Homo sapiens: one gene and its partners. The protein of the gene in region 2 purifies or fractionates together with the protein of the main gene of each other region. This does not show direct contact. Each region holds a gene or a part of one and is shown on either strand. Other genes may lie near its edges. The genes, in order: EDC3, PPP1R35 and DCP1A.

What was found.
Region 1: the proteins of PPP1R35 (region 2) and EDC3 purify together in Homo sapiens (affinity purification with mass spectrometry; one large-scale study listed by BioGRID and IntAct). This does not show direct contact.
Region 3: the proteins of PPP1R35 (region 2) and DCP1A purify together in Homo sapiens (affinity purification with mass spectrometry; one large-scale study listed by BioGRID and IntAct). This does not show direct contact.

The regions. Positions count from the first base shown.
Region 1 is NC_000015.10:74,689,499-74,693,150, forward strand, and holds part of EDC3 (enhancer of mRNA-decapping protein 3), read right to left. Parts: intron 3,521-3,652; exon of another isoform or gene 3,388-3,520; intron 1-3,387. UniProt on the Homo sapiens protein: Binds single-stranded RNA. Involved in the process of mRNA degradation and in the positive regulation of mRNA decapping. May play a role in spermiogenesis and oogenesis.
Region 2 is NC_000007.14:100,434,744-100,438,066, forward strand, and holds PPP1R35 (protein phosphatase 1 regulatory subunit 35), read right to left. Parts: upstream 1,755-3,323; 5' UTR 1,632-1,754; coding exon 1,398-1,631; intron 1,322-1,397; coding exon 1,105-1,321; intron 1,025-1,104; coding exon 888-1,024; intron 791-887; coding exon 617-790; 3' UTR 539-616; downstream 1-538.
Region 3 is NC_000003.12:53,313,042-53,316,693, reverse strand, and holds part of DCP1A (mRNA-decapping enzyme 1A), read left to right. Parts: intron 1-3,652. UniProt on the Homo sapiens protein: Necessary for the degradation of mRNAs, both in normal mRNA turnover and in nonsense-mediated mRNA decay. Removes the 7-methyl guanine cap structure from mRNA molecules, yielding a 5'-phosphorylated mRNA fragment and 7m-GDP.

The DNA of each region.
Region 1 (3,652 bases), on a different chromosome or scaffold from region 2:
TTGTCTTCCTTCTCCCTCCATTTCTTTTTTTTTTTTCTTTTTTTGAGACGGAGTCTCGCTCTTTCGCCCAGGCCGGACTGCAGTGGCACTATCTCAGCTCACTGCAAGCTCCGCCTCCTGGGTTCACACCATCCTCCCGCCTCAGCCTCCTGAGTAGCTGGGACTACAGGTGCCCGCCACCGCGCCCGGCTAATTTTTTGTATTTTTAGTGGAGATGGGGTTTCACCGTGTTAGCCAGGATGGTCTCGATCTCCTGACCTCATGATCCGCCCGCCTCGGCCTCCCAAAGTGCTGGGATTACAGGCGTGAGCCACTGCGCCCGGCCCTGCCTCCATTTCTTAAACACCTCCAGGTAAGAATACTTTAATTCATTTACCACTTTGTTCTTATACAAATAAACAAGTTGCCAATTACAAATCTAGCTACTTTGGAATATCCTTCATCTCATTAATACATTACTAGTGTAAGTTTGCTGACAGGATTTGATGTACAATAAAAAAAAATACATCTTCCCTGTAAAGCCTATTCATGACAATAAATCCTTCAAACAATTCCACTTCTAAAAAAAACTAATTTTTCTGTGTAGTATTCAACAATGTTAAATATTTCAAAAAAATGCAATGTTTGTGCAGCTAGCTAACCAACACTTATTTTGCCAACTTGTTATTAAAATCTATCCTAACAATCTGTGTAGCTAGGAAGGGAGCCACAGATGTGACATAATCAAGATTTTCCAGATTACTTTTAATTATGGGACTATTTTGCTCAAATGCTGAACTATCAGGATTTCCAGACTACTGAATGCCAGATAAGTAATGGGACTTTATCATTATTCTGATAAGCCTTTGGATAACAAAGTCAGGTAGCGCTAAACACTCTTCCATCTATTATATTACTAAGGCAGCGCCCAAATGATCCATAAATTACAAATAAACAAGTTGCCAATTACAAATCTAGCTACCTCCATCTCTGTGCCACATCAGACAACTCACAGCATTCAGATCCAATAAACAACCCTTGGCCTGCTAAAAACAATTATAATTAACAGCTGTGGATGAGTGAGTAGTTATAGATTTCTGAAAAACTAGGAATTGTTCCACACAACAGGAAAGGTGTTTGTTTAATCAAAATATTGGGAAAGGCAGAGATCTTAAAAGAAAATATGCAACCCAGCATGATGGCTCAGGCCCTACATCCCAGCACTTTGGGAGGCTGAGGCAGGAGGATCACTTGAGGCCAGGAGTTTCAGACCAGCCTGGACAACATAGCAAGACTGTTTCCACCCCCACCCCGCCTCAGAAAAAGAAATCCAGCACAATCCCCTATCTAAATCCAGTACTAAACCCATATCTTCCATAAAAGGCAGCACGGTGAAAAGAGAATAAAATTCTGAAATCACACTGGGTGTGGTGGCTCACGCCTCAGGTGGCTAGTGTCTGCAATCCTAGCACTGTGGGAGGCCAAGGAGGGCTGACCGCTTGAGCCTAGGAGTTCAAAGCCAGCCTGGGCAACATGGCAAAACTCTGTCTCTAGAAAAAATACAAAAAATTAGTCAGAAGTGTTGGGAGGCGGAGGTTGCAGTGAGCCAAGATTGCACCACTGCACTCCAGCCTGGGTGGCAGAGCAAGACCCTGTCTCAAAAAAAAAAAAAAAGAAAAAAATGAAATCAGACATCACAGCCCCTGGTTCACTTCTGAACTTCCTTACTAACCAGCACTACGACCTGGGCAAATTACCTAATCTGAGTCTCAACTGCCTCATCTGTAGGGAATTATGCCAATTATACACCTATCTCATAGAACCACTATATGAATTATTTTAAGATACTATATGGATTATTTTAAGATACTATATGGATTATTTTAAGATTAAATGAGATAATCCATATAGTGTCTACAACATAAAAAATTTTAGTTCAAATGTCTCCTTTTGCCAGAAAGAATACCGATCACATAGGGAACTTAAGTTATGGCGCTGTGAGGGCCACCTCACTTCTCACCCAAACAAAATTACAAAAATACATGAATTCCCTCTACAACATCTTGGAAATCAAGTCCTGGTCTTTACACTGGAATACACATGTCCGTAGGGGGTACACAAAGATATGCAAGCAAGGGAATCAACTTCCATGCTACTCTCATAAACCTGATCTGTGTGGATAACTAGATGATCAATTTTAAATTTTCAGGCATAAAATTTATTACTTTAGGATGGGTAGGAAAACTACAGCCCTAAACCAGATCTGGTCTGCTACCAATAAAGTTTTATTGGAACACAACTACACAAAAATACTTGCATATTATCTACGGCTATTTTCTGGGTTTTTTTGGGTTTTTTTGAGACAGTCTTGCTCTGTCGTCCAGGCTGGAGTGCAGTGGAGCGATCTCGGCTCACTGCAACCTCCACCTCCCGGGTTCAAGCGATTCTCCTGCCTCAGCCTCCCAAGTAGCTGGGACTACAGGCGCCCACCAACACGCCCGGCTAATTTTTTTTGTATTTTTTAGTAGAGGCGGGGTTTCACTGTGTTAGCCAGGATGGTCTCGATCTCCTGACCTCGTGATCCGCCTGCCTCAGTCTCCCAAAGTGATGGGATTACAGGCGTGAGCCACCGCACCCGGCCACATATTGTCTATGGCTGTTTTCTCACTACAGTGAGAATTAAGCAGTAATCACAGAAACCATGTGGCCCATAAAGCCTTTCATCTGGCCTTTGACAGAAAGTTGACTTTTGCTTTAGGATAAAATTCTGTGGGAAAAGTGGAATGGATACAAGTTCAAAAAGAAAAAGGAAAAATATGTAATGGACAAACTCCCAAAATGATAAAAATGACCAAAACTAACTCAACTAACTATATTAAGAAATTGAATTAGTAAAATCTTCCCAGAGAGAAAAACCCAGGCCCATAGGACTTCACTGGTAAATTCTATGAAACACGTAAGAAATAATACCAATCCTACACAAACTATTTCAGAAAACAGAGGAGGAAGGAACACTTCCCAATTCATTTTATGAGGTCATAATTACCCTGCTACTAAGGCCAAAGATGACATAAAAAAAAGGAAACCTCAGACCAATATCCATCATGAACACAGTCACAAAAATTAACAAAATGTTAGCAAATTGAATCCATCTATATGTAAAAAGTAGTAGATACATTACTAAGCAGGGTTCATTTCACAAATGCAAGATGGGTTTAACATCTGAAAATCAAGTAATGTAATAAGCTATGTTATGTATTTCTTACAGTCTTTGTTTCAAAAGTTTAGTTGTATGTTTTTACAACATCAAATTGATATTGTATTTAGGTAATTTTATATTTATTTTTAAGAAGTCAATATTTACTTGTCAGAAATTACATCCTAAACTATTTAAAATTAAATACTTACACTATGTAAATCTAGGATGAAAAGTTTCAGGTGCCAACTTAAAAGTATATAAGATCTAACAGATTCCACAGTCTTTTAGACATTCTCAAGAAGAAATGTTTTAAGACTAGTGACCCAGCCTATACCTGAAAGCCTGAAATGACAAGGAGAAAAATAATCATTCATGCCAAAGCAACACCACCATATCTTCAAACTTTTGACTTCTGCCCATAAATTTACTCTTAGCACATCTAGATCTAAACCTAATATTCCAGGTACAAGCCTA
Region 2 (3,323 bases):
CGGGCCAGCACCTTTTTTGTGCTGTGGAATCAGACTTACAGGCAATTAACAACATGAAGCTCTTCGGGGGCTTGTTAGGTGTTACTGGAACTTCGAACATACTGAGTATTCAGGTCAGGTGTAAACAGGATGGGCAAGGCTCTTAAAGGTAAAAAGCAAGGAGATAATTTCAGTAACTCAGTGCAGACAGCTGGCTTGCAAGCTCCTTGAGACAGGTAATCATGGAAGGTTTTCGTGAAGTGTGATAGGCTGGGCTCTGCATTTTGAGAGATCAGAATAAGTGATGCAGAGAACAATCGCTACCTGATCAAAAACAGGCAGTAGCTGTGGCTGAAGTCAGGGAGAGGCAGGTAAGGTTGTGAACGGAGGGGTATCTAAGTAAACCTCTAACGTGGACAGTGTTTTCCACTTGCCATGACTCTACCAAGTTCCAAAAAGGCCCCCAAACCCGACTTCCAGGCAGCTTCCAACCTGAGGCTAAGTGGATAACCCCCTAGAGAGCTTTTAACCCCATTTTAGGCCTCCAAGAAGAGTCCCATTTATTAGCAAAATTACTTTATTCTAACAAATAGTTTAACACAAAAATACGAACTAGCCCTCCAGGGATCTTTGGGGTCTACGCTTCCCATCGCCTCAGTGTCCGGTGCATGAGGAAGGTGTCCTCTGAAGGGCGGGGCCGGAGTTGAAGTCGGAGAGGGGGCAGACCGTCCAGGGTCAGGTGTGGAGATTCATAAAATAGCGTTTCTGGGTCACACAAGATGGTCATGTCTGGCCCAGGCCCAGGTGGCTCCTGTTGGGAGGTTGGGCCCAAAGCAAGGTTACACTTTGGGAGGAAGGATCCGGGTAAGGGGGTACATGGAGGAAGCCCCACGCCCAGACCCCATCACCTTTGGGTGCGGGGCTCGAGCCTGTGGCGGCAGGAGAGCCAATTTCTCCCTGAGCGCGGCATTCAGAACCTGTTCCTCCGGCACCTGCAGGCTCACCAGGTCCCGGAAGAGCCGCTTGGAGCGCGGCACGTTCAGCCCTGAGAGCGCAGCGGGGACGGAGGTGAGTGGCGCGCCTCACCCCGACTCCCGCACGCGGCCGGCCGCCCGCCCCCCTCACCCTCGGACACGCTCTCCTCCAGGCCGCAGCGGATCTGGAACGACTTTCTCAGCTGTTCCTCCACGGCCTTCGCAGCATCAAAGTGGCTCCCGGCTGCGGCCCGCAGCTCCAGGCCCAAGGCCAGGCTGCTCTTCAGCACGGGCATCTCCAGCTCCTGCGGCACCGCAGGCTGCGGCTCGGACCGCACCGGGGAGGGCGGCGTCAGGCGGAAGCGGACCTGGGAGCAGAGGGCAGGGCAGTGACCAGGTGGGCGCGAGGCCGTCGCGGGCCGGGGGCCAGCCTCCCCCGCTCACCTGCCGCCGCTGCCGAGCCGCGCCCCGCCGCTCCGCCCGCCCCTTCCGCCGCCCGGGGCTGCCGTGCCGCGGCTGAGGGCTGTCGGGCCGCGGGCTCAGGCTCAAGTCCAGGCCGGGCTCGGGCACTGGGGCTCGGAGTTGCGGGACTTGGGGCTCCGGGGGTGGCCCCGGGACCGCCGCGGCTTCTTCCCCGTCCGCCGACTTCAGCTCTGACTCCCCACAACCCATCATCATCTTTGGAGGTGCCTTGAGGGTGCGGGGATGCGGGGGTCGCAGACGCTCCAACGGTCAGGGGACACAGCCTGGCTGCCGCCTCCTTTCCCCCGCCCCTCCTAGACGCCGCTACCGGAAACCGTTAACCCTTTCCTTCGGGGGCGGAGTCAGCAGCCCCACCCACCCTGTTGTCGCTCCCAGGCGTCATTTCCCTCGCTCCGTCCCCAGGTTTCCGGCAGGCTTCCGCACTCACAGCCTTGGCACCGCCCCCAAGCCGAAGTGTTGGAAGCACTCACAGCCTTGGCACCGCCCCCAAGCCGAAGTGTTTTTGAGCTGGGGTCGGTTGAAGCCCTACGGGTCCTCATCAGGGCCACTCCTCCTCTTGAAAACTCTGCTATGGCTGAGTTACCCAGAGGAATCTTAGTCCTGCTAGCGCTGCGATGCCCATTGCCCAGTGTGTCAGTCCTCATTCTGGGGCGCCAAATGGGGCAGCATTTTTTTTTTTTTTTGAGACTGAGCCTCTCTCTGTAGCCCAGGCTGGAGTGCAGGGGCGCGATTTCGGCTCACTGCAACCTCCGCCTCCCAGGTTCAAGAGATTCTCCTGCCTCAGCCTCCTGAGTAGCTGGGATTACAGGCGCGCGCCATCACGCCCGGCTAATTTTTGTATTTTTAGTAGAGACGGTTTCACCATGTTGGTCAGGCTGGTCTCGAACTCCTGACCTCGTGATCCGCCCACCTCGGCCTCCCAAAGTGCTGGGATTACAGGCATGAGCCACCGCACCTGGCCATAAATGGGGCAGCTTTAAGGTAACGGTCCAGTGTGCCCTGACCTCCCACTCAGACCTGCACAGCATTTCCGGTGTTCCGTTGCCTCCAAACTCGGACCGGAGTTGGCCTGTATGAGTGCGGGCGAGGGTCGCCGACCCCATCCCGGACTCCCTTCTGGGACACAGCAACTCTTGCAGCTTTTTGTGACTACTTTTACCTTCGAGAGTTCCCTGAAATATTAATTTGTATAAAAAGTAGATATCTGGCACGGGTGCGGTAGCGCATACCTGCAATTCCAACTCTGGGAGGCCAAGGCGGGAAGATGTCTTGAAACCCTGAGCTGGAGACAAGCATGGGCAACATACCGAGACTCCACACCACCATTCCCAATCTCTACCAAAAGAATTTAATTTTAGCCGGGCGTGGTGGTGGTGCTCACCTGTAGTCCCAGCTACTGGGAAGGCTGAGGCGGGAGGATCACTTGAGTCCAGGAGTTCCAGGCTGCAATGAGCTCTGATCATACCACTGCGCTCTAGCCTGGGCGACAGAGCAAGACCCTGTCTCAGAAACAAACAAAAAACTCTGTATTGTGGGTTCAATGTTTTATTTTGTTTTTTGAGACGGAGTCTCGCTCTGGTGCCCAGGCTGGAGACTGTGGCACAATCTCAGCTCACTGCAACGTCTGCCTCCAGTGTTCAAGCAATTCTCCCACCTTAGCCTCCCAAGTAGGTGGGATTACAGGCGCCTACCACCACACCCGGCTAATTTTTTTTGTATTTTTAGTAGAGACAGGGTTTCACCGTGTTGGCCTCGAACTCCTGACCTCAAGTGGTTCAGCTGCCTTGGCCTCCCAAAGTGCTATGATTACAGGCAGTAGCCACTGCACCCAGCCTTGAATTCAGTTTTTTTAATTTTTAATGTCAGTGGACTTATCCTGGGCCCTGA
Region 3 (3,652 bases), on a different chromosome or scaffold from region 2:
GCGGGGAGGATTGCTTAAGGCCAGGAGTTCAAGACCATCCTGGCCTGATATAGCAAGACTCATCTCTGTTTAATTAAAAAAAAAAAAAAAAAAAAAAGGGAAGAAGAAAAGAAAGTGATTAGAGAAGCCAGGCACAGTGGTGTGTACCTGTCATTTCAGCTATAATACTTGTGAGGCCCAGGTGGGCAGATCACTTGGGCCCCAGGAGTTCAAGATCAATCTGGGCAACATAGTGAGATCCCATCTCAAAAAAAAAAAGTGATTAGAGAATACCCTGGTGAAACTGTTGATAATGAGTTTTAAGTGTCTGGCCTATTTATAGCTGAAGAGAATATTGTATGTTACCATTAACTTTGTGATAAATGCCTCTCTGGTCACCAAAACTAAAGAAGACTATCTGTCTTTGTTCTAAATCTGCCTGCATAAACCTGTTTGTTACTTTTTGTTGTTGTTGTTTGCTACATATTTGAGAATATCACCTCTACTATCCAAAAATACTAGCACAGTTCTTGTTAGTATATTATACATATAAATAAATGTGTCCATCAGTGCCCATTCTTTTAAATACAGTTCTTCCCATCACTATTTGACAGCCACAATATAATAAAGATCCTCCAAGTAAAAAAACTGATTTACTCCAGGCTGGGCGCGGTGGCTCACGCCTGTAATCCCAGCGCTTTGGGAGGCCAAGACAGGCGTATCACGAGGTCAGGAGATCGAGACCATCCTGGCCAATATGGTGAAACCTCGTCTCTAGTAAAAATACAAAAAAATTAGCGGGGCATGGTGGCGGGCACCTGTAGTCCCAGCTACTCAGGAGGCTGAGGCAGAAGAATGGCGTGAACCCGGGAAGCGGAGCTTTCAGTGAGCCAAGATCGTGCCACTGCACTCCAGCCTGGGCGACAGAGCGAGACTCCGTCTCAAAAAAAAAAAAAACAAAAAAAAAAAACAACAAACTGATTTACTCCAAACAATGTTTATAAAAACGAGAAACTATGTAGGAAAATGAGTGAGCTTCTAGACCCTATGTCATCTAAATTTGTATATTCTCTGGTCAGTGGTGGCAGAGTTGAAAACCCACTAAACTTAGAAGCTGTTGACTCTCCTAAAGAGGAAATCCAGTCTGCCAGAAACTCTTTTTTTTTTTTTTTTTTTTTTTGAGACAGAGTCTTGCTCTGTCACCCAGGAATGTGGTGGCGTGATCTGGGTTCACTGTAACCTCCGCCCTCCTGGGTTCAAGCAGTTCTCCTGCCTCAGCCTCCCGAGTAGCTGGGATTACAAGTGCCTGCCACTGCACCCAGCTAATTTTTGTATTTTTAGTAGAGACAGGGTTTCACCATCTTGACCTGGCTGACCTTGAACTCCTGACCTCATGATCCACCCACCTTGGCCTCCCAAAGTGCTGGGATTACAGGCGTGAGCCACCACACCCGGCCTCAGAAACTCTTTTTAACAATAAAAAGTTGTTTGACGGTTTGGCCACATAGACTATGTAAACTTTGGAGAACTCATGGAAGTAAGCTTTATTCCTGATCTTACAGACATCTTAGGGGTAGGTTTTGGTGTTTGAAAGGAAAGGAGAATGGCATGAGTGCTATCCATAAAGTTTGGATTAGAAGAGGCCTTAGAGTCCAAGCCTCGTTTATGTGAGAGTCCCTTCCATTACCACCCCCGACAGCTTCTGCTTTCAGCAGTGGTGAGCTTTATAAAATTACCTGTTCTGGCTGGGCGCAGTGGCTCACGCCTGTAATCCCAGCACTTTGGGAGGCTGAGGTGGTCAGATCACTTGAGGTCAGGAGTTCAAGACCAGCCTAGTCAACATGGTGAAACCCTGTCTTTATTAAAAATACAAAAATTAGCCGGGCATGATAGTGCATACCTGTAATCCCAGCTACTAGGGAGGCTGAGGCACGAGAATCGCTTGAACCCGGGAGTCGAAGGTTGCAGTAAGCCGAGATCGCACCACTGCACTCTAGCCCGGGTGACAGAGTAAGGCTCTGTCTCAAAAAAAAAAAAAAAAAAAAAAGAAAAAGAAAAGAAATATTCTTCTCTTAAACCAAAATAATCACAGAATCACAGATCCTAGTCTGGGTCAGGGAAGAGTTAAATACCAGCATGGCCAAGTCAGGCAACATGTCAGGAGGTAGGTGGAAAACAGGCCGTGTGACAGATCCTTTATGAAGATGGATTCAGGCTGATGTGGCCTATATTTGAGCATTAAATAAACAATTCATGTTTGGTCTTATTCTCATATCCCATACCAGTCTTTCAGTCTACCATGAAGCTCATGATGCTACATTTGTTTTAGAAGTAATAGTCTTATTAAGAGCTATAATTATGAATCTAGATAGAAAAACTACATGTTACCTTAAAGCCACATTTTCCAAACAGGAATTCTACCTCAGAGTAAAATTCTATAGTCAAATAAAATTTGAGAAAATCTATAGGCCTGCCCTTCTTGGAGAATCACAATAAATTTTAGCATGCTTAAAAATCAACTGGCCAGTTGTGGTGGCTCATGTCTATAATCCCGGCACTTTGGGAGGCTGAGGTGGGAGGATTGCTTGAGGCCAGGAGTTTGAGACCAGCCTGGGCAACATGGTGAGACCTTGTCTGTACAATAAAAAAATAAATAAAACAAACAAACAAAAATTCAATGGGTGGGTTGTGGTAATTCATGCCTTTAATCCCAGTATTTTGGGAGGCTGAGGCAGGAGGATCACTTGAGACTAGGAGTTTTGGGACCAGCCAGGGCAACATATCAAACTCCATCTCTACAAAAATAATAATAAAACTCAAGGATTCTGTTTTTTCTTTTTTTTTAAGTCGGTTTAATATTGTTTAACCCAGTATTTTTAAATAAAAAAGCCATCTCTGTTCACCTCTTCCCCACACTCTAATGAGAGCTCCTGTGCAGGCTGGGTTTTTTGTTTTTTAAAACAGGGTTTCACTATGTTGCCTGGGCTGGTCTCAAACTCCTGGGCTCAAGTGATCGTCCTGCCTCAGCCTCACAAAGTGCTAGGATTATAGGCATGAGCACTGTGCCTGGCCTGAATGAATCTTAAAAAAAACAAAAAAAGTTGCTTTATTAAAATTTATTATTCAAGCTTGAAAGCTTGAAGAAAAATATAGGAAATAATAAAATATGTATGTGCTTACCACCCAGCTTTCAGTTCCTAATATTTTGCTGTAATTGTTTCAGATCTTTCTTTACAAGGGAGAAGGGGGTGTTCTTAAAAACTGAAAGCCCACTTAGTGATTTTTTTTTTTTTTTGGAGTCAAGGTCTCACTCTGTTACCCAGGCTGGAGTGCAGTAGTGTGATCTCAGTTCACTGCAGCCTCTACCTCCCAGACTCAAGCAGTCCTCCCACCTCAGCCTTCCAAATAGCTGGGACTACAGGCGTGTACCACTACGCCCAGCTAATTTTTGTATTTTTTGTAGAGACGGGGTTTTGCCAAGTTGCCCAGGCTAAGTTGGTGGTTTTTAAAAGGGAGAATAAGGGAAACCTTTTATTTGCTTATAGTGTTACTAACTTTTAAGGATTCACCAAGACCTCTATTTTCAAGAACTGACTTTGTCCTTGCTAGCCCAGTGTCAATCCAAACTTTCCACAGAGGATTTGTTCAACTATGCAGCCTTCCTGTGTCTTGG